Homo sapiens: one gene and its partners. The protein of the gene in region 1 purifies or fractionates together with the protein of each later gene. This does not show direct contact. Each region holds a gene or a part of one and is shown on either strand. Other genes may lie near its edges.

Evidence for each region.
Region 2: the proteins of NSA2 (region 1) and RPF2 purify together in Homo sapiens (affinity purification with mass spectrometry; 4 studies listed by BioGRID and IntAct, with this or other methods). This does not show direct contact.
Region 3: the proteins of NSA2 (region 1) and GTPBP4 purify together in Homo sapiens (affinity purification with mass spectrometry; 5 studies listed by BioGRID and IntAct, with this or other methods). This does not show direct contact.

The regions. Positions count from the first base shown.
Region 1 is NC_000005.10:74,763,248-74,770,255, forward strand, and holds the start of NSA2 (ribosome biogenesis protein NSA2 homolog), read left to right. Parts: upstream 1-4,001; 5' UTR 4,002-4,113; coding exon 4,114-4,116; intron 4,117-5,683; coding exon 5,684-5,871; intron 5,872-5,966; coding exon 5,967-6,117; intron 6,118-7,008. Other genes in the region: GFM2 (ribosome-releasing factor 2, mitochondrial), read right to left, coding at 433-519, 1,788-1,859. UniProt on the Homo sapiens protein: Involved in the biogenesis of the 60S ribosomal subunit. May play a part in the quality control of pre-60S particles.
Region 2 is NC_000006.12:111,020,013-111,027,037, reverse strand, and holds part of RPF2 (ribosome production factor 2 homolog), read right to left. Parts: intron 2,856-7,025; coding exon 2,711-2,855; intron 1,636-2,710; coding exon 1,456-1,635; 3' UTR 1-1,455. UniProt on the Homo sapiens protein: Involved in ribosomal large subunit assembly. May regulate the localization of the 5S RNP/5S ribonucleoprotein particle to the nucleolus.
Region 3 is NC_000010.11:983,974-991,433, forward strand, and holds the start of GTPBP4 (GTP-binding protein 4), read left to right. Parts: upstream 1-4,460; 5' UTR 4,461-4,506; coding exon 4,507-4,554; exon of another isoform or gene 4,555-4,975; intron 4,976-7,460. UniProt on the Homo sapiens protein: Involved in the biogenesis of the 60S ribosomal subunit. Acts as a TP53 repressor, preventing TP53 stabilization and cell cycle arrest.

The DNA of each region.
Region 1 (7,008 bases):
TAGTTGTATCAACCATTGTATAATTATGTTGTACTTTGATATTAACAGAAACTTTATTTCATAAGAGTCTCAATCCATGGATACTTAATATTACAAAGCACATTATTTGTTAGTAGTTTAAAGATGTGCATTAAGTGATGACATTCTTAGATATAAAACCCTACCCCTCCTTCAAAAACAACTGGCATTTTAGTACTCCATGAGACCAGTATTTAGCTACAGCTGTTCTTTTACTTTTAAATTAAGGTAATTTCCTCTTATATTTCTTAATAAATTAAGGTAATTACTTTCAAATTAGTTTAGCTTGAAGATTTCCAAAGGTTATGACTCAACTAAATTTGGAATCAACAGCTGATGAGATATACTGGGCATTTTAGGCAGTAAAGGAGCTGAGGTTGTTAAAGGACACTTAATTTTATAAGAAATGCTTACATTAATATACACACTGGGTATTGTCTGATGACTCATTGCAAATATCCTCAAGTTGGTCAACATCTTGATCCTCCAAACTGTTACTGTCTGAAAAAATAAATATACAAAATCAAAAAACTAAACTTATGTATTACATGTCAGCAAGGCATATGTAAGTTAGACATATGTAATATGTATGGTAAAATGTATTACTTTTAAAAAGTTGGAACAATATTTTTAGCTACCAAAAATTCAATGCATCATTCAGAAAATGGAAAATTCTGATTAAATATGAGAAATATGGTTTTTAGGTTTAAAATGTCCCTTATTTGTCAATGTAATGTTTAAAGAAAGATATGGCGATACAGTAGAAATCAACTTATTGAAATTACAAAACATTGTATCAACCAAAATGCATTGTTATGTAAATGTATAGAATTAAGCATAAAAAGCTAAGCATCCACATATTAACTTGGTAATTTCTAATTGGCAGTAAAATTTATTGATTCATTTGTATACTCTGATTTTCCTACCATACCATGTAAAAACTAAATCATGTAAAAAATATATAAAAGCAAGTCCTCTTCCTCTCTGATTATAGAAACTAAGCATCTTTAGTTTAAAAACATTTGCTAAATATTCACTATGTTTCAAGTACAATATCAAAGCTATTAGAAATATAAGGACGCAGCTGAGACTGGGGATGCTGGGGAGACAGACAGACCATGTTAAACCAAGCTTGTCCAACCCGTGGCCTGCAGGCCACATGCGGCCCACGATATCTTTATATGCAGCCCAACATAAATTCGTAAACTTTCTTAAAATATTATGAGGTTTTTTTTATTTTTTTTTAGCTCATCAGCTATTGTTAGTTATCATTAGTGATTTTATGTGTGGCCAAAGACAATTCTTCCAGTGTGGCCCAGGGAAACCAAAAGATTAGACACCCCTGTGTTAAACCATTGTGATCCATGTTATTAAGATATGTGAAACCTCATTACTACTCCTAAGTCTGTTCTTTCTGGATCTTAGCTAAGAAACATTCACTACTCTTATTTAGAAAGTCATCTAATACTTACATTTGATTTCCTAAATATATTTGAATCTGTTCCCTTTGTTGTTTTTTTTTTTTTTTTTTTTTTTTTGAGACAGGGTCTTGCCCTGTCACCAAGCCTGGAGTGCAGTGGCTTGATCTCAGCTCCCTGCAACCTCTGCCTCCTGGGTTCAAGCGATTCTCCTGCCTCAGCCTCCCGAGTAGCTGGAACTACAGGCATGTGCCACCACACTTGGCTACTTTTTGTATTTTTAGTAGAGACGGGGTTTCGCCATGTTAGCCAGACTGGTCGTGAACTCCTGACCTCAAGTGATCTACCCACCTCGGCCTCCCAAAGTGCTGGGATTACAGGCGTGAGCCACCATGCCTGGCCTTGAATCCATTCCCTTTTCATTGGTAACGCCAAAGTTCAGGGCCTCATAGTCTCTCCACAGTTGTGACTGTAATAGACATTTTCCTCTTCTTTAACTCAGTGGTTGTCAATAAAAAGATAATTTGCACAACCCAGCCCTCCCCCGCCCAAGCCTATTCGTTCCCATTTATTCAACAAGAATTTACTGTGTGTCTGCCTACCCACTGCTTTCTAGATATCAGCGTTAATGCAGTGAACAAAAGACAACAATCTCTGCCCTCATACTGCCTCTACCGTAGTCAGGGGATACAGACAACAAACAAAAGTAACGAATACAATACATAGTCTCTCCCATGATGATAGGGTGCTGTAGAGAAGAATGAAGCAGGAAGGAGGAATTGGGACAGTTAGAACTGTAAGTAAAGAGATCAAGGAAGGCCTCATTCAAACAGTGACATTTAAGCAAAGACCTGAAGTAGATGAGGGAGGAAATTCGGGGGATTGAGGGACGGCGGGGAGGGGCGCATTAAAGGCAAAGAGATTATATAACGTACTGTACCTAAAATATACAAATGCTAGTTACTATTTCTGGTTTTAAAGAGAATGATGAGATCACCTTAGAAAATGGAGCCTTAAAAAACTGCTTCAAAGGCGGGGCTCGGTGGCTCACGCCTGTAATTCCAGCACTTTGGGAGGCCGAGGCAGGTGGATCACCTGAAGTCAGGAGTTCGAAACCAGCCCGACCAACATGGTGAAACCCCATCTCTACTAAAAATACAAAAATATTAGCTGGGTGTGGTGGCGAGCGCCTATAATTCCAGCTACTTGGGAGGCTGAACCTGGAGAATCGCTTGAACCCGGGAGGCAGAGGTTGCAGTGAGACGAGATGGCGCATTTGCACTCCAGCCTGTGCGACAAGATTGAAACTCCGTCTCAAAACAAAACAAAAACTGCCTCAAAGCCGGGCGCTGTGGCTCAAGCCTGTAATCCCAACACTTTGGGAGGCCGAGGCGGGTGGATCGCTCGTACCCGGGAGTTCGAGACCAGCCTGGGCAACACGGTGAAACCTCATCTCTACAAAAACTACAAAAATCAGCCAGGCTTCGTGGCGCGAGCCTGTAGCTCGCTACTTTTGAGGCTGAGGTCGGAGGATCGCTTGATCCCGGGAGGTCGAGGCTGCGGTGAGCCGAGCTCGTGCCCCTGCACTCCAGCCTGGGCGACTGGGCGAGATGCCGTCTCAAAATACCCATAAAAACAAAAACAAAAACAAAATACTGCCTCAAATACAAGCACTAAGAATTAATGAAAGTATTCTTTTGGTACAGTTCTTTTTGTTCATCAACTGAATCACGCTGCAAGCTGTGAAGTAATTAAGGGAACTTCTGCAACTGTGCAGTAAAAGGGTAAACCTGATAGTGTATTTAAGTAGACGTACTTTCTGGTAGTTAATTACTTCTTGACACTAGGGGGCCACTAAATACAAGTCCACTCAGCATTTGATTCGGTGCACCAAAATGCCTCAGAAATTTCTGGAATCAGTCCTGTACCTCCAAAAAACCAGAATGTTATCTTCTTCTTTTCTAACAGCTGCAAAGCCCCAGTAGTTCCATTTTTCTGTACACTAAGTTTTCATTCCTCAGTATCCTTCACAATCATGCACACATTACACAGAGTGACCGGAACAAAGATGAGTCGACTTCGCCGAATGATAGAGAAAAACTTCCATACTGAGCGAACACCGAGGGGAGTCCGGAGGCCCTGTTGTCCTCTTCCGTGGCTGGCTGTGTCCGTCGCAGCCTGAAAGGTCAGCGGTACCCAGCGCTGTGACAGGGTCACAGGCGCGCGATGTCTCACAGCTCGGAGCAGTACTCACCTGGCATTAGGCCGCGTGCCGCAGGCCAGCTCTCACCGCTGGGCTCTTGAAGCAGGAGGCGCGAGCCGCGCCAAAGTCTGCAACGGCCTCAAGTCTCGACGCCAGCCTAGGCAAAAGGCAATGTATCTAAACGAAAAGAAAATAGGCTTTCTCCGCTCTACCGCCTCGGGCAGCCACACCTCCACACTTCCGGCGGTGTACCGGCCAAATGCCGCCTGCCAGCAACTTCCGTCCTCCTAGCTAAAAGCGGAAAACAGAGGCTCGGAACCGCTGCGTGGTTCTTGCTCTTCACTCGGCCGTTTTAAAGGGTGACTCTTTCCTGTCCCGGCCTGCGTGGTGTGGGCTTGTGGGTCTTTGAGACCCGAAAATTGAGAGCGTTTTCGCACTCCAGCGGCTGCTCCTGGCGGCTCTGCGGCCGTCACCATGGTAAGGAGGATGCCTCGGACGCTCGCGACACACAGCGTCTGAGTTAGTGGGACCTGAGGACTCTGGGGCGCTGGGGTAGGGGGTGAGCGGTGGTAGGCGGAAATGAGAACTGCCAAGAGAAAAGGATGGTAGACCCGTGGGGTGGGCTCTGAGGAGTGGAAACAACTTCACATTCGAGACACAGACGGTATTTGCCAGAACACAAGCTTTGGAGCAAGATTTTACTCTGTCCTGTTTTCTTTTTTCTTTTTGATCCACCGCTAAGAGTCCTAAAAATTCCTGATTTCACCACAAGCGTGGTTATCAGCCCCAGAGCCTAATGGGAATATGGTTGTCCCTTGTACAGTCTTAGATGTCAGTCCCGCCCCCTTCATTTTACTGCTGAGGAAACTGAAGGCGTCCTTGCCAAAGACCAGACAGCTAATGAATTGCGAAGCCGGGCTTAACGGCCCAGATCTAACTGCCAGGTCCTTTCTCTTTGTGTTACGTCTCTATAATCTGCGTTTCTTTGCAAAATGGCATTCCATACACCCTTCATGTGATTGCTGCAAAGTTTATGTGATAGCAGTTGGTAGCAGCACACCTTGTTGGTTGTTACTTAACATTGCTCTCTGTGCTGGACTTGGCTTTGTATCATTTTTATTTTTGCAGCCTTAAAATACGAATAGACTCACGCCTGGCCGCGTGTTTAAAACGTGTCTAAAATGCAAAAAGCATCCCATACATTGCTGGTGAAAAGAAAAATAATGCACTTTTGGAAAACGGTCTGGCAGTAAACACACGTCCACATGAAGACTTGCATGCAGTTGTTTATTGCAGATTTATTCGTAATCACCCAAAACTGGGAACAACCCTGATACCTATCATCTGGTCAGCGGGTAAACAGTGGTGTATCCATACAATAGCATACTACTCAACAATAAAAAGGATTGAAGTTCCTATACCTGCAGCAAATTGGGTGAATCCCAAAAGCAAGAAACCAGATTCAAAAGGCTATGTACTACTGTTGATCCCTGTTTCATTCTGGGAAAGGCAAAACTGTAGGGATAGGTATCAAACTGAGGGTTGGGAAAGAGGATTGACTTAAAAGTTACATAGGGAATTTTAGGGGGAAATGGAAATTCTTTGTATTTTGATTGTGGTGGTTACAGAACTGTGTAGTTAGGAAAAACTTAGAACTGTATACCTAAAAAGGACAGGTTTTACTGTGTGTAAATTATGCTTCAATAAAACTGACTTAAATTTTTTAAATGTGAAATGAAGGTGTTATTAAAAAAGCAAATTATGTCAAGGAAAAAAGATACTGTAATCAGTTCATCCCTTTTGTGGTCCAGTAGATTTTGGACCATTCCCTAATGAGATTATTAGAGATGTAAGCCCTGATGCCTCATATCATTCAAGACCAAAATTTAACTTACATCATGTGAATAAACTTAATGGTGCAAGAATCATTTAAGTAAGTGAACATTTGGATGAAACAGGGTCTTTGTGCTGTGTAAAAGAAAGCATTTTAGAATAATTGTCAGTACTTTAAAAAATTAAAATAATATTTCTTCCATCATTATAGCCACAGAATGAATATATTGAATTACACCGTAAACGCTATGGATACCGTTTGGATTACCATGAGAAAAAGAGAAAGAAGGAAAGTCGAGAGGCTCATGAACGTTCAAAGAAGGCAAAGAAAATGATTGGTCTGAAGGCTAAGCTTTACCATAAACAGCGTCATGCTGAGAAAATACAAATGAAAAAGACGTAAGTGGTCTCATTTATTTGTCATAACAAGTTAACATCTTTTGAGTAATCATTATTAAAACAGATAATCTTGAATCTTTTTTCCTTCTTGGTAGTATCAAGATGCATGAAAAGAGAAACACCAAACAAAAGAATGATGAAAAGACACCACAGGGAGCAGTACCTGCCTATCTGCTGGACAGAGAGGGACAATCTCGAGCTAAAGTACTTTCCAATATGATTAAACAGAAAAGAAAAGAGAAGGCGGTAAGCAATAACAATTGAAGTCTTTGTTTTGTTTAGGAGAATTACTTAAATTCAAATTTGAGGTTCTTGTTTCTCGGTTTAATTTCAAACATGAAGTACAGCTATTATTCCCATTATTTAGATGTTGAAGTCTTTGTAAATTTAATAAAAAACTTGCTTTCTCATCATAAGGTTTTAAAATTTAAGTTATAAAAAAAATTTATTAGAATGCCATATGAAATTAAAAAGCTGGTAAGGAGTGAATTTCAAATTCAATATTTGTCTTCCTGTTTGAAAACCCACAGTGCTATGCAGTCATAAAGAAAAATACAAATGCTTCTTATTTGTGCTGCCCTGTAGTGCCAAACTTGGTTAAAAAGTAGAATGGTGGAAAACTCCCTGAGTTGTCACAAAAAATGTGGCTTTTTAAAACACCTGTAAATAGATTAGCAGAAATCCAGATAAAAGAATATGCAGTATTTATATTTAAAGAATTATTTTTACTGCCTTACACTATTTCAGTTTTTTCATAGAATTTGCACTCAAGGGAGGCATAAAACATCTGGTGAGGATTTTGTCTTGCTAGTGATCTACAGATCCATCTCGGGAAGAAATACAGAGACATATTAAGAGGTGGAAACACTCTTCCAGTATTATGCTATTAAACATTAGTAAACACATATACTGCTTATAGAAGTCACTATCGGCTGGGCACCGTGACTCACGCCTGTAATCCCAGCACTTTGGGAAGCCAAGGCAGGTGGATCACCTGAGGTCAGGAGTTCAAGACCAGCCTGACCAATGTGGTGAAACCCCACCTCTACTAAAAATACAAAAATTAGCTGGGTGTGGTGGTGTGTGTCTGTAGTCCCAGCTACTCGGGAGGCTAAGACAGGAGAATTGCTTGTACCC
Region 2 (7,025 bases), on another chromosome or scaffold:
GGCGTGGTGGTGGGTGCCTGTAATCCCAGCTACTCGGGAGGCTGAGGCAGAAGAATGCTTGAACCTGGGAGGTGGAGGTTGCAGTGAACTGAAATCGCGCCACTGCACTCCAGCCTGAGCGACAGAGCGAGACTCTGTCTCAAAAAACAACAAAAAAGAAAGCACTGGTACTTCATGTAACAAATTATGATTTGCGTATGTCTGTACCTTTACAACATTACTGGCACTTGTATAAAGGAGATTCCTTGTCAAGGACTGAATCAAGGAACTTAACACCCTATTCCAGAAAAACAAGTATGCAATACTAGTAGAAGGAAGAAGAAAGCTTCTGTTTTCCTAGGCACAAGGCCTGTCTTCAAGAAACTTTCAAAACAAGTAGTTAGGCTTTGGCTGGCTTCTACACCATCTGCAAACGCCCAGGGCCTTCATGCAACCTTTAGCTACCTAGGGCTACCCAGTACCCTAAAGTGCCCTGCACCTTAAAACTCACCTGTTTTCTCCTTTTTCATTTCTGCCCCTATCAAAACTTCTTTTCTGCCAGGTGCAGTGGACCAACATCTGTAGTTCCGGCTGCTCAGGAAGGTGAAGTGGGAGGATCACTTGAGCCCAGGAATTTGAGTCCAGCCTGGGCAACACAGCAAGACCTCATTGCTTTAAAAAAAAAAAGTAGGGCTCAGTGGCTCATGCCTGTAATCCCAGCTACGTAAGAGGCTCAGGCAGGAGGATTACTTGAGCCCAGGAGTTCAGGGCTGCAGTGAGCTGTGATTGTGCCACTGCACTCCACCCTAGGTGACAGAACAAGACCCCATCTCTTAAAAACAAACCAACCAAAAAACACAGGTTTCGTCTCAGAGAAGCGGGGTGGGCTCTACTTAGTAGTAGAGTCTCTTAAAACAATCAACAGTAGTGTAATTTATCAATAATCAGATAGCAGACATCCCTCTCAGAGATCTATATATTTTCAGCCACAAAGCTTAAAATCTCAAATGTCAACGAGTAGGATTTCAGGCAAAATAAAAGTAGAAAATAAAAATCAGAATGTAGATCCATGTTGGGAGAGGAGGTTAACTTTCCAGGTAATTCATACTGAGATTGTTTACACAGCTCCTGCGGGTCCGGCTTTCTGTGGCTTTCTTTAGCTAAGGCCAGAAATTCAAAAAAATCCCAATGGTTATGGAGATCCCTCCTCACCCATCCATCCACCCAATGAGAAAGAAGAATTTGTGGAGGGCAGGGGATATCACAAGAGAAAATGGCACACCAGGGTGTAATGTCTCAAATAAAAGGCTTACTTTACACTTAATACTAGTATATTACTGTTCATAATAATATATCGTAAAATTATCATGTTATAAAAATATATAATAAGATCTTATAAGAAACTCTGAATGGATTGACGCTTGATAATTCTCTTAAGTAGAACACAATGAAACAGTAGTGGCTGGCTAAGTTCCATCAATTTTTTTTAATTCTTTTTGACTTTTTCTCGTGGTCTTCTGTTATCCTTTCTGCAGGTCGCTTCTTCAACCCCTTCATTTTCCTGGTTTGTAGTTTGCTTAGGTCTTGCTTCTGCATATGAATCCTTCCATAAGTTGTACCAAAAGTATCATGGGAAATATTTTTCTTCTTCTTTGGCTACGATAAAAGAATATGTATATATTTAATGGCCTTCTACTATAATGAGCCAGTAAAAATCTAGTCTGTAACAACTATCTTAGTAGCAATTTCCATTAGTGCCTGCCCCTTCAGTGACACAGTATATAGCCCTATACACTTTTCTTCTCAAACTTAAGTGTGCATACAAATCACTTGGGATCTTGCTAAAATACAGATCCTAATTCAGTATGTCTAGGGTAGGGCCTGATATTCTGCACAATTCCCAGGTAAACTGTCAGGCCACACTTTGAAAAACAAAACTATAAACTACACTAACCACTGTCACACATCAAGAAAATAGCCTGTGTTTAGCTTAAGAAGTTGTGACTATTGTTTCAATTTCTATTGGCATTTTAGAGATTACATTTCTTCTTGTCTTTTAAAACTACTTAAAAAGTCAAAACACATTTTATGCACATATGGTTTATATACCCTGTACTCTAAATCCTTAGCCTTTACAGTGTACCAAACAACTCTCTTTCTTTTGCTGAAAACAACAGTCTTGACTATCAGAAGGCACTTAGCCAAACCTCATGTCTGGGTTTTGCAACTCTTTTTTTATTATCCCTTATTGTTGGCTTATTTGGTTCTCTCTCCTTTTCCTGGCTCTGTGAGTCCTAGTTTAATCTATTGTATTGATCTCTTTATATATGTCCTTGTCTTTTTTTTTTTTTTTTGGCTCACTCTGTCACCCACGCTGGAGTGCAATGGCGTGATCTCTGCTCACTGCAAGCTCCACCTCCCCGGTTCACGCCATTCTCCTGCCTCAGCCTCCCAAGTAGCTGGGACTACAGGCGCCCGCTACCACGCCCAGCTAATTTTTTGTATTTTTCATAGAGACGGGGTTTCACTGTATTAGCCAGGATGGTCTCGATCTCCTGACCTTGTGATCCACCCACTTCGGCCTCCCAAAGTGCTGGGATTACAGGCGTGAGCCACCGCGCCTGGCCTGTCCTTGTCTTTTAATATAATATGCCACAAATTCTTTTTGGAAAGAAAAAGGATTAAAGTAGAAAATACAAATAAATGTGGTACCAAGCTCTAAGTTATATACCTTGAGAGCTTTTGGCATTTTCATAGATAATTTATAAAGGTCATCCGATGCCAGGTGTGTCCTCCTCAGAACCAGATCCAATGAGGGTCCCATCTCTTCCAATTCAATCCGTGGTGTTCTGCAACCAGATTTCTTCAACAGCAACCTTTAGGAAATAGGTAAAAAGAAATGTTGCTTTGACTTTCATAAAAGTCCTCTCCACCAAATATTTTTTGTTCAGGGGATTTACAATTCCATTAAATGATATAAAATGTTTAGAAAGACTTACTTAAATACTTAATACTATTCAAGCCAAGTATATCCTTTGGTTCACATCTTCTTTTATAAATTTTTTTTTTTTTGAGACGGAGTCTCGCTCTGTCCCCAGGCTGGAGTGCAGTGGCGCGATCTTGGCTCACTGTAAGCTCCACCTCCCAGGTTCACGCCATTCTCCTGCCTCAGCCTCCCGAGTAGCTGGGACTACAGGCACCCGCCACCACACCTGGCTAATTTTTTTGTATTTTTAGTAGAGATGGGGTTTCACCGTGTTAGCCAGGATGGTCTCGCTCTCCTGACCTCATGATCCTCCTGCCTCGGCCTCCCAAAGTACTGGGATTACAGGCATGAGCCACCATGCCCGGCTTTTCTTTATAAGTCTTTTATCCCTTTTTGAGCTAAAGGGTCACACAAATATCAAATTAAAAATTTTTTTTTTCTCTTTGAGGTCAAGGGCAGTTTGCTTATTTTTAAAAATCAGAAATAAAATTATACAATATTATTGAGAAACAGCAAGTGAGATACAAAATTATTCTCAGAAATGAAATAAAATCCTTTGATTTGACTTCTTCATCTTACTCATAGATTTATGTATGTATAAAAGTAATTATAATTGGCTTTTTCTTTGAAACAGTATGTTTATACGATTAACAAGTTCTTATCTAAGACTGTAGGAGTTAAACCAACCCATTCAGAATCAACTTTTCCTCATAGCACAGACATTTACTAACTTCCTTACATTGAAGTGAACTTTAAAATCTTAAAATAACAAAACCACAACTTTCTGAATACCCTATGTCTAAACAGCTCTGGATCTGGAAACACTGGTGGAGGAGAACTGGGGAATACAGGCAGGATAAAGTGATGGTGGAGCAGCCAGGCGTGGTGGCTCACGCCTGTAGTCCCAGCACTTTGGGAGGCTAAGGCAGGCAGATCACCTGAGGTCAGGAGCTCCAGACCAGCTGGCCAACATGGTGAAACCTCATCTCTACTAAAGACACAAAAAATTAGCCAGGCGTGGTGGCACATGCCTGTAGTCCCAGCTACTCGGGAGGCTGAGGCAGGAGAATCGCTTAAACCCAGGAGGCGGAGGTTGCAGTGAGCCGAGATCGCGCCACTGCACTCCAGTCTGGGCGACAGGGCGAGACTCCGTCTCAAAAACAAACAAACAAAAAAAGAAATCAGGGACATGTATTTTAATTTTCAACTAAAATTTTTTCTTCCACTTAAAACTGCTAATTTTCAGCTAGTTAGAAAACTTGTCAATTCAAAACAGCTCATGGCATATCCGATAGATTCAAATCACCCAAGTACTACTATACACTGCCAAAAGCACCTTTTAATTAACTGAAGCACCTTTTAATTAACTAAAAATAATTTTTAAAATTGATGCATAATAGATGTACATAGTTTCAGGGTGCATATAATAATTTAATATTGTGCCTTTTTATTCACAAGCGTCCTAATGAATTTTTTGAGTGGTACATAAAATTAAGATTTCCAAATAACTATGTATAATTACCTATGTTGTTATTTCATTAAAGAATTAAGTACAATGTCATACTTTTCTGTGTAGATGATCTGATCTTAATCATTTCAGTGAGTATGTTTACTGGAAGATCAAACTGATTTAAGGAAATATTCTCTAGCTTTTAGTTATCTGCAAACAGAACCCAGTTCTTTCTCTCTCAGATGGGCTCAAGCTGGTAGATATGCTAACTGGTAATTTCTACATATTTTTAAATATTATTTGTCTATTTCTTGAGGAAGAGTGACATTACCACTACTGTTCAAATTGTAATTTCCTCATTTTTCTCCCTCTCATACACTTCTCTGGCTGAAAGTCTGTTTTCATTAAGTAAACTCCTCAATTAGAATGTTATGTTTGCTTTTCAAAGTATGCTACCACTTTGTTTTGCATATTTCCCCCCATAAGGCCTAACCATTGTGCAAAGGCACATGTGGCATTACTAACGATTTTGTTTCATATTAATGGCTCTGACTCCATAGTGAATAAAATTTCCCAACGGATATAAATAGTCACTCACATACAAGGAATAATTACTATAGGATGTATAGGAACAGTGGTCAATAACACTATGATTTATTCACCCAAAAGATCATGTTAAAGGTTATATTAATATAATTTCCTGTTTAGAGTTCCTTTCATCCAAAAAGCTCAAAACCATTTTATAAACCTCATTTATCTTCACAAATAAAGTGTGTGAATATTAAATATTACCATTTTCAAATTGCATAAGGGCTAATTTGCAGTAAGAGCGAGGGAAAGGGTTCCACAGTATAGCTAGCCCAAAGAATGCCTGGGGAGCCAAGTTAAGTCAGACATACTTTCTGGTATATGCCCATCTATGAGTACCCCTTTACTCTTATAAAGCAGTACTGTCAATCTTAGGGGGACCTCAGAATTATCTAAATGGTATTGCTATAGTTTACAGAGGAAGAAACAAAGACCCTGAGAAGTGGTGACCTGCCCATGTCACGTGGCTGAGCCCAGCTCAGAGCCAGGTCAGTAGGCTCAGAGGTGATGCTGAATCCCTGGACCACCCCTTCCTCCCATCCTCAATGCTCCCCAAGTGTGGCACAGCCTCTGGAAGCTAAGCTGATCCACATGTTTAGTGATTCTTTCAAGTAGCAGCTCACTCTCAATCACAGTGTCCATTTTTTATTTCAAATTAATAGCTAACAAGTATTACAAGGCACATATGGAACATCTAGTGATCAAAATTACATACTAGGGTCTCTGATTTTAAAATTTCAAACTTTTTTTCATTATGAAAGATGTCGTGCTAGTGTAAAGGTGATTCTAGCAATCAGATTTTTGGTGGATCTATGTATTATAGTTACACTGCTAGTTTTTTATTTTTGTTTTTATTTTTATTTTTTTGAGACAGAGTCTTGCTCTGTCACCAGGCCGGAGTGCTGTGGCACAATCTAGGCTCGCTGCAATCTCCGACTCCGTGGTTCAAGCAATTCTCCTGCCTTGGCCCCCTGAATAGCTGGGATTACAGGCATGCGCCACCATGTCCAGCTAATTTTTTGTATTTTTAGTATAGATGATGTTTCACCGTGTTAGCCAGGATGGTCTCGATCTCCTGACCTCGTGATCTGCCCACCTCAGTCTCCCAAAGGGCTGCTGGGATTACAGGGATGAGCCACCGTGCCCGGCCTTACTGCTAGTTTATTCTTTTTTTTCTCTTTTTTTGAAATGGAGTCTCGCTGTCACCCAGGCTGGAGTGCAGTGGTGCGATCTTGGCTCACTGCAACCTCTGCCTCCCGGGTTCTCCTGCATCAGCCTCCTGAGTAGCTGGGATTACAGGTGCACACCATGTTGCCCGGCTAATTTTTATATTTTTAGTAGAGACGGGGTTTCACCATGTTGGCCAGGCTGGTCTCAAACTCCTGACCTCAGGTGATCCACCCATCTTGGCCTCCCAAAGTACTGGATTACAGGCATGAGCCACCACGCTGGGCCAGTTTATTCTTGCTCTAAAGTCTGACTTGATAATTCTCTATTTTGTTTTATTTTCTCTGTATCTTTCTTTACAAATAAACCCTTTTCACTAAATACAAGTGAATACTTTCTGCGAAACCGTTCAACACAGAAGAGTTTTAGGCTACTGTTACCACTCATTTCTTACTGTCAATGATTTTTTACCGTTATATTTTTATCTCCCTTGTATCCCCTCTATGTTTAACACAGAGGGCATACATACCCACCCGAGGCAGGAGAATCGCTTGAATGCGGGAGGCAGAGGTTGCAGTGAGCTGAGATGATGCCACTGTACTCCAGCCTGGGCAACAGCAAGATCCTGCCTCAAAAAAAGAAGTGTTCCAGGTCAGGCGCGGTGGCTCATGCCTGTAATCTCAGCACTTTGAGAGGCCAAGGCAGGTAGATCACGAGGTCAGGAGATTGAGACCATCCTGACTAACATGGTGAAACCCTGTCTCTACTAAAAATACAAAAATAAAATTAGCCGGGCGTGGTGGCGGGTGCCAGTAGTTCCAGCTACTTGGGAGGCTGAGGCAGGAGAATGGCATG
Region 3 (7,460 bases), on another chromosome or scaffold:
TCTAGAAGTTGGTGGCAGGGCTGGAATTGAAATTTTAAGCCTCCTCCCTCTGGAAAACGGAAATTGCTAAAGCATTATGGTTTCCTTGTGCAGACCTTCAAAATCAATTATTAAACTTGTGACAATGACGTCACATCATCAAAGTGAATTTTTTTCACTGTTTTTAACCTGAGGGTCAGACATCACAACCACCTGCTTAACCAGCTTCCAGAAACACTAAGGATTCAGATGTCTGTTGCAACATGAAACTTGTCTTTGCTTATCTCGAGTATCTTTTTGGGTACAGCACAGAATGCTAATCTTAAGAAATTCTGCCTGCAGATATTTAGAATCATTTGGAAATTGATCATACAAGCATAAGTACATGCATTCCAAATACGTGTATGATTATTATCACAAATCTTCTCTAGGAAAAGAGATCGCAAGATTTCCATTAAACCTAAAATTGTTCCTTTATGGAACAGCAGAATGCAAAGAATGTTTTTAACAGTGTGTCAATAGAATGACTCGTACTCAACCCATAGAAACACCCCTTATCAGCAGCTCTGACGTGAGCAAGGGCAGAAGTTCATTAGCACAGGTGCCTGTCATGATCCACGCACAGGAACGGAATTCTCACAGAAGAAACACAACCTGTCTGCATATGCAAACAGTGCTTTAGTGAAACACAGGTGCTGGGGGATTATTGACAGCATATGACCCCAAGTGCAATCCATCATGTACCTCCATTTAAATACCAAACAATTCATGACCAGCCTGGACAACATGGCGAAATCTCCCCTCTACTAAAAAATACAAAAAGTAGCCAGGTGTGGTGGCATGTACCTGTAGTCCCAGCTACTCGGGAGGCTGAGGCACTTAAATCTGAGAATTGCTTAAACCTGGGAGGTGGAGGTTGCAGTGAGCCAAGATCACACCATTGCACTCCAGCCTAGGCGACAGAGTGAGACCCTGTCTCATAAATAAATAAACAAACAAACAAATACCAAACAAGGTAATAACTCTACAGAGGTCAAGAACAAAGCCACTCTCGGCTGGCAGTGCAAAAGGAGAGTGGCTTTGGAGTTCCATGCGCCCTGAACGCACCTCATTGTGTCTCTCCAGCTGTGTGACGGTGAGCAAGCACTCAACCACCTCAAAGCCAGCACTCTTGTCTGTGAAACAGAGACAATCACACCCACCTCACTATGCTGTCCCGAGAAGAAAGCAAGTGACCTGGCACATGGTGGAGGCTCCCTGCATTGCAGTTGTTAAGGTTCAACGATAATTTAATGAATAGAACAAAAGTTTAGCAAATATTATTGTAACTAAGCAGCTAATAAGAACATAGATAATACATAATGCATAATTAATAATACACAATCTCTTTGCTCACTTATTAATGCCTGTAGAATAGGGTTAGTGAAAAGCTAAAATAATTCACATAAAGTATTTTTAACATGCCTGGTAGATAGTAAGTGAGCAAAGAGTGAAGAAACAGAGGCTTGGGGAAGCTGAGACATTTTCCCAGGATCACAGCGGGTGGAGCTGTATCTCAGAAATGAAGCTCACAGTCTTAACTCACTGTGTAATTCTGCAGAGAATGTCAGGCTGCACCTTTGGCCCGGAGGGTGGCTCTCATGCCATTGCTGCCTTCCACCTAAGGAGGTGTTTCCTTAGACCTCCCTGTTGACAGCTTTCCTCTTTATGGCACAGTGTGGAGTTCTGACCCACTTCAGGGTTGTGCAGAGGGGGTCTGACAGTACTGTAATTCAGTAGGACTACTTGAGTATTGCAGAAGCTTGATTCCAACCGCTACAGCCCCTACATCAGGAACTTACTCAAGCCAACATTCAATCAACGGAGTTCCACAGTCACTGTGAATGCTCTTGGCAGTGCTGCCTGAGGTGAGGGATGGCAAAAAAGTAAGACACAGTTCCTGTCCACGAAGAGCTGGCTACTTCTTTTGGAAACAAGATGTACACAAGGAAGCATCTAGGTACAAAGCAGCATGTGACTCGTTCTGAATGAGTTCCTGTGGGGATCCAGGGAAGTGGCCGACGGGCCCAATGGAGCACTCATAGGACCCTCTAAGACCGGATGCCTACTGATGGCTAATCCCCATGTAAAGGCTCCTTTCAGGCAGGAAGTTCAGTTCTGCAAAATGTACCTTTCATCCATCAGAATTACAGCAACGAGAAGGTAAAACAGAAAAGACCAAACCCACAAAATAAAAAGGTCTGAAAAACAAAGCTTTTTACTGAGAAGTGCCTCGCAGTCAGAAGCTTTGCAGAGTACCCTTGAGAGCATCCTTTACTACAGCTGAGAAGTACCTTTCTGTCACAAGGTACACACTCAGAGGCGTCCTGGCAGCTGGAACCTGCTAATGCAGTCAGGAACTGGCAATGTGCCTCGTACTGCAGGCAGCATTTGCGACACTCCTCAGAAAAGGCCTTTAGAGTTTGGCTTCCCCAGAGAAGCCCAGAAGTGTATGATAAAGAAGCTTGCTCCTAGTGGTGTAGAATACATACTTGCCCCCAAGAAGCTATACTCTGCCACAAAATCACAAGAACAGGCAAGGATGTTGATTCTCATCAACACGCACATGGTGTAAGATGCTTGGTACCTTATCATTGTTATAGCTCTGGGCCCATGATGAGTCATTATGGTTGTGCATTCACAGACATGCCTTTGTAGCTGAACAAGTTAAAAGCAGGTGGCTCATGCCTGTAATCTCTGCACTTTGGGAGGCCAAGGTGGGTGGATCACTTGAGGTCAGGGTTTGAGACCAGCCTGGCTAATATGGTAAAACCCTGTCTCTACTAAAAATACAAAATATTAGCCGGGAGTGGTGGCAGGTGCCTGTAATCCCAGCTACTTGGGAGGCTGAGGCAGGAGAATGGCTTGAACCCTGGAGGCGGAGGTTGCAGTGAGCTGAGATGGCGCCACTGCGCTCCAGCCTGCGCGACAGAGTGAGATTCCGTCTCAAAAAAAAAAAAAAAATTAAAGAAAGGATGTTTGCCCATCTGAAGCAAAGTATTGACTGGACTTATCTAAATACCGGATTACAAGAAAAAGAGGAACTGGCTATATCAGAGTGAGAGAAAGTGGGAGAGGTTGAGGAAACATACAAGAACCTAAAAGAAAGGGCAATAAGTATGAGCATAGCTTTGCTAATCTCGGAAATGGTGGCCAGAACTGTCCTGTGGTTTAGCAAATGATCATAGCCAGCAAATCCTAATTACCCTAGAAGCTTCCTTTAGAAGTGCCACAAAGATGTAGGAGGTATGCTTATCCGCCTTGTGACACAAAAATGGAAGCATAGTTAATAGATGAGAAAAGCATGACCCAGAATGATTTTCAATATTGGAATGCTGGGAATTTATGAGAGGTATTTTCGCGTAAGAATAATAGGACTTGTTTAAAAGGATTGGAGAGTGGGGGGCATCCCAGATGCGTGAGAAGCAGTATAGCTAATGGTTAGAAGCAGGTTTGCTGGAGCCAGGCTGCCTGGGTTCAAAGCCCACCTCTGCTGCCTGTTAGCTTGTCAGCTGCACAACCACGGGGTGCTTTCGAGCCTTGTGTGCCTTTGTTTCCCCATGCACTTCATGAGGCTGTTGCAGAAATTAAACGAGTTAATATATAGTCAGCAGCTCTGAACACTGCTTGACTGAGTCAGCCCTACCTAACGTTTAATTTAAGGGATGTGGCCCTGGGTTCCCAAAGGGAGCGGCCACTCTATTCACAAACATAAAAGCAGTAAAGGCTCCATCCTCATCAACCTTCTCCTCAGTTGGACCCCACAGGACTGTCTCTCGCAACTGTTCCCTGGGCTCTCCTAAGGCACTGCGCGGAACCAGCTGCACCTCTTTTGCCTTAGATCAGGCTTTCCCTTCTCCGCCCGTTTTGGGATTTAACAAGCACGAGAAAGCAGGGCTGCAGGGAAGCCGCGAGGGCCTCCTCACCACGGCCCGGGATCAAGTCCCACGCGCGAGGCCGGGGTAGGGGCGTCATCTGCTCCACACCCAGAGGCTGGGCACGCCCCGCACGCGCGGCTTCCTCCTCCTTTGCGGGGCTCGCCGCGACCCAGGACCCCCAGACTCCCGGATCCCCTAGACCCTCTGGACTCCTAAGCCCCGCAACTCCCAAATCCCAAGACCCCGGACCCTCCAACCCTGGCCCAGGGCGCGTGGCTGGGGGCCTGAACCCGCTCCAGAAACCCGCAGGGCAGTCTGTCGGAAACCCCCGCTTTACTCAGCAGGAATTTAGTCTCCGCGCTCCCCCTAAAACCCGGGCGTCCTCTCCTCTGTACCCTCGCTCCTGAGGCCCTCACACGCCCTCCGTGGCTGACCTCCAAGCCGGGCGGGTGCGCTGTGCGACGCGGAAAGCGCCGTAGAGCACGCAGAACACGATTGGCTGAGCTCCCGGAAGTGACGTACCTCAACCGCCCGACAGTGGAAGTCCCACCTGCGCCCGACGGCGGAAGTTCCGGGAGTGCCAAGTACCCGCGTGCATACGGCTGCCGGCATGGCACATTACAACTTCAAGAAAATTACGGTGGTGCCGTCCGCCAAGGTAGGCGGCCCCGGGAGGGCCACTGCAACTTTCGCGTTCTCCTCAGCTGGGTCCCCGGGGAGGGTCCGGGCCTGTAGCCGTGGGAGAGCGGTCGCCTTCCGCTCGCCCATCCCCCGCTCCTGGGCCTGACCGTCTGGCCGCGTACTCGGGATCATTTCCCCTCCCCCAGCAGAATCCGGGGTCCACCAGAGATCGGATCCCCCAGAGACCGGGGTCCACCTAAGACCGTGGTCCACCCAAAGACTGAGGGCCCCCAGAGATGGGGGTACACCCAGAGTTGGGTTCCCTGGAGGGGCCCCGGGTGACGATGTGGGCGAGTGGAGGGGGACCCCGACATGTGAGGGAGGAAGCGTTCCGTGGTCCGTGATGAGCCTTCGGATTCTGGGTTTGGCGTAGCCCCCTCCCCTCTCAGGAATCCTGGGTTCGTTGTTCTCGTGATTTAACGTTTCATAATTTTTAAGTCATTCTCTTTCACTGTTAGATTTGGGAATACCTGTTCCTTTTCAGACCATAGTAGGCCCAGACTAAATTTTTACAGCGTTGGTTGGTGTGGCAAGAATGAGTCAACAAGTGTTGAGTATTAGGACTTTTTTTTTTTTTTTTTTTTTTTGAGACATAGTTTTTCGCTCTTGTTTCCCAGGCTGGAGCGCAGTCTCGGCTCACTGCAACCTCCACCTCCCGCGTTCAAGCGATTCTCCTGCTTCAGCCTCCCGAGTAACAGGGATTACAGTCGTGCACCACCACACCCAGCTAATTTTCGTATTTTTAGTAGAGACGGGGTTTCACCACGTTGGCCAAGCTGGCCTCGAACTCCTGATCCCGGGTGATCCTCCCGCCCCGGCCTCCCAAAGTGCTGGAATTACAGGCGTGAGCCACTGCGCCCGGCCCTAGTATTAGGACTTTTAAGAAGTCACGTTTTTATGTAGTGAACATTCGATTTGGGTCGCAATTACACAGACATTGACGGGCAACTGGAGCCTCCCAGGGACTCCTGCACGAGAGGGAGTTACTGAAGTCCCTGCAGAGTGACTGTTTTCCCCTCGTCAGTGCCTCCTTTTCTTCAGGTCTCAAGGACGGGATGAGCTTGCCTTGGAAAGCTTTGTGGGAGTCTCGTATTTTACCTTCATAGCAAAAGTTGTTTCCCCACTTCTCTCCACCATTTCTTATTTCTTCCTGACAGTTGTTCTGGCACATCTCTTGATCGATTGTAGTATTTTCTTTCTTTCTTTTTGAGATGGAGTCTCGCTCTGTTGGCCAGGTTGGAGCGCAGTGGTGTGATCCTGACTGCAGCCACCGCCTCCCAGGTTCAAGTGATTTTCCTGCCTCAGCCTCCCGAGTAGCTGGGACTACAGGCATGCGCCACCAGGCCTGGCTAATTTTTGTATTTTCAGTAGAAGTGGAGTTTCACCATGTTGGCCAGACTGGTCTTGAACTCCTAATCTCAAGTGATTCACTTGCCTCAGCCTCCCAAAGTGTTAGGATTACAGGCATGAGCTACTGTGCCCAGCCAGATTGTAGTATTTTCGAGTGCAGGAGTCATGTCTTATTTGTATTTTTGGTCAACCATCTCTCAGGTTTGTTGAAGGAATTTGCTCTTTGGATTATATGAACTTTGTTCATGTTATTGACTTATGTGGAGAACTTTAGAATATATTATACACCATCCGTCTTCTGTTCTGTGGAGTGAGATTTATATTTTTAGAGAACAGATGACTTATCTAAAAACTGGGTGATGGTAATTGTTTGGTGATTGGAAGTAAAAAAAAAAAATCACATCGGGAAAGTGTGGTATTCAGTTCATTCTAGAAGATGTTGAGTGAGTGCCTGTCCTGTGCATCGGGTACTGTGTTACAAAAATGCATTAGATAAAATACCTGCCTCTTTGGAAGTCATTTTCAAGAGAGGTAAGTCGAGGCCGGGTGCGGTGGCTCTCGCCTGTAATCCCAGCACTTTGGGAGGCTGAGGCGGGCAAATCACGAGGTCAGGAGATCGAGACCATCCTGGCTAACACGGTGAAACCCCGTCTCTACTAAAAATACAGAAAAATTAGCCAGGCGTGGTGGCGGGCGCCTGTAGTCCCAGCTGCTGGGGAGGCTGAGGCAGGAGAATGGTGTGAACTGAACCCAGGAGGCAGAGCTTGCAGTGAACCGAGATCGCGCCACTGCACTCCAGCCTGGGCAACAGAGCAAGACTCCATCTCAAAAAAAAAAAAAAAAAAAAGTGGGGTAAGTCATATCTCGTATGACCATACTAGAAATAAAACATTGTTATCATGGAGGACACACATGGATTGGGAGAGGAGAAGAGTGTGGTTAGCTGTGGTAAGTTGGAGAGTCAGGGGGAACCTTATGAAGTAGGTAACCTTTGACTTGGTCCCCCTTCAGGATGTGCGAACGGCATTAGGTGCAGAAGAACGTAGAGAAGATCTTGTGTGGGCCCAGAGGGGAGACCGTGTGTGCCCCTCATAGTACTTGGCAGACTGTTGTGACCACCCGTTTACTTGTCTCACTTGTAGGCCCAGAGGGGAGACAGTGTGTGCCCCTTATAGTACTTGGCAGACTGTTGTGACCACCCATTTACTTGTCTCACTTGTAGGCCCAGAGGGGAGACTGGGCGTGCCCCTCATAGTACAATACTTGGCAGACTGTGTTGTGCCCACCTGTTTACTTCTGTCACTGGACCCTGAATTCCGTGAAGGAAGGGACAGTATCTTGTTCATTATCCTCAGCACCCAAGTATCCCTAACAACCTTTGTATGAAATAATATTGAGTTAATCAAATTGTTGAATTAATCAAAGTGTTCAAGAAAAAAGGTCAAGTAATATTGTGTGGCTAGATACATTGGATTTAGGAATCCTGGGGATCGGATCCTTATTAAAGAGAAGTGCTGACTCTTTGCACTGGGT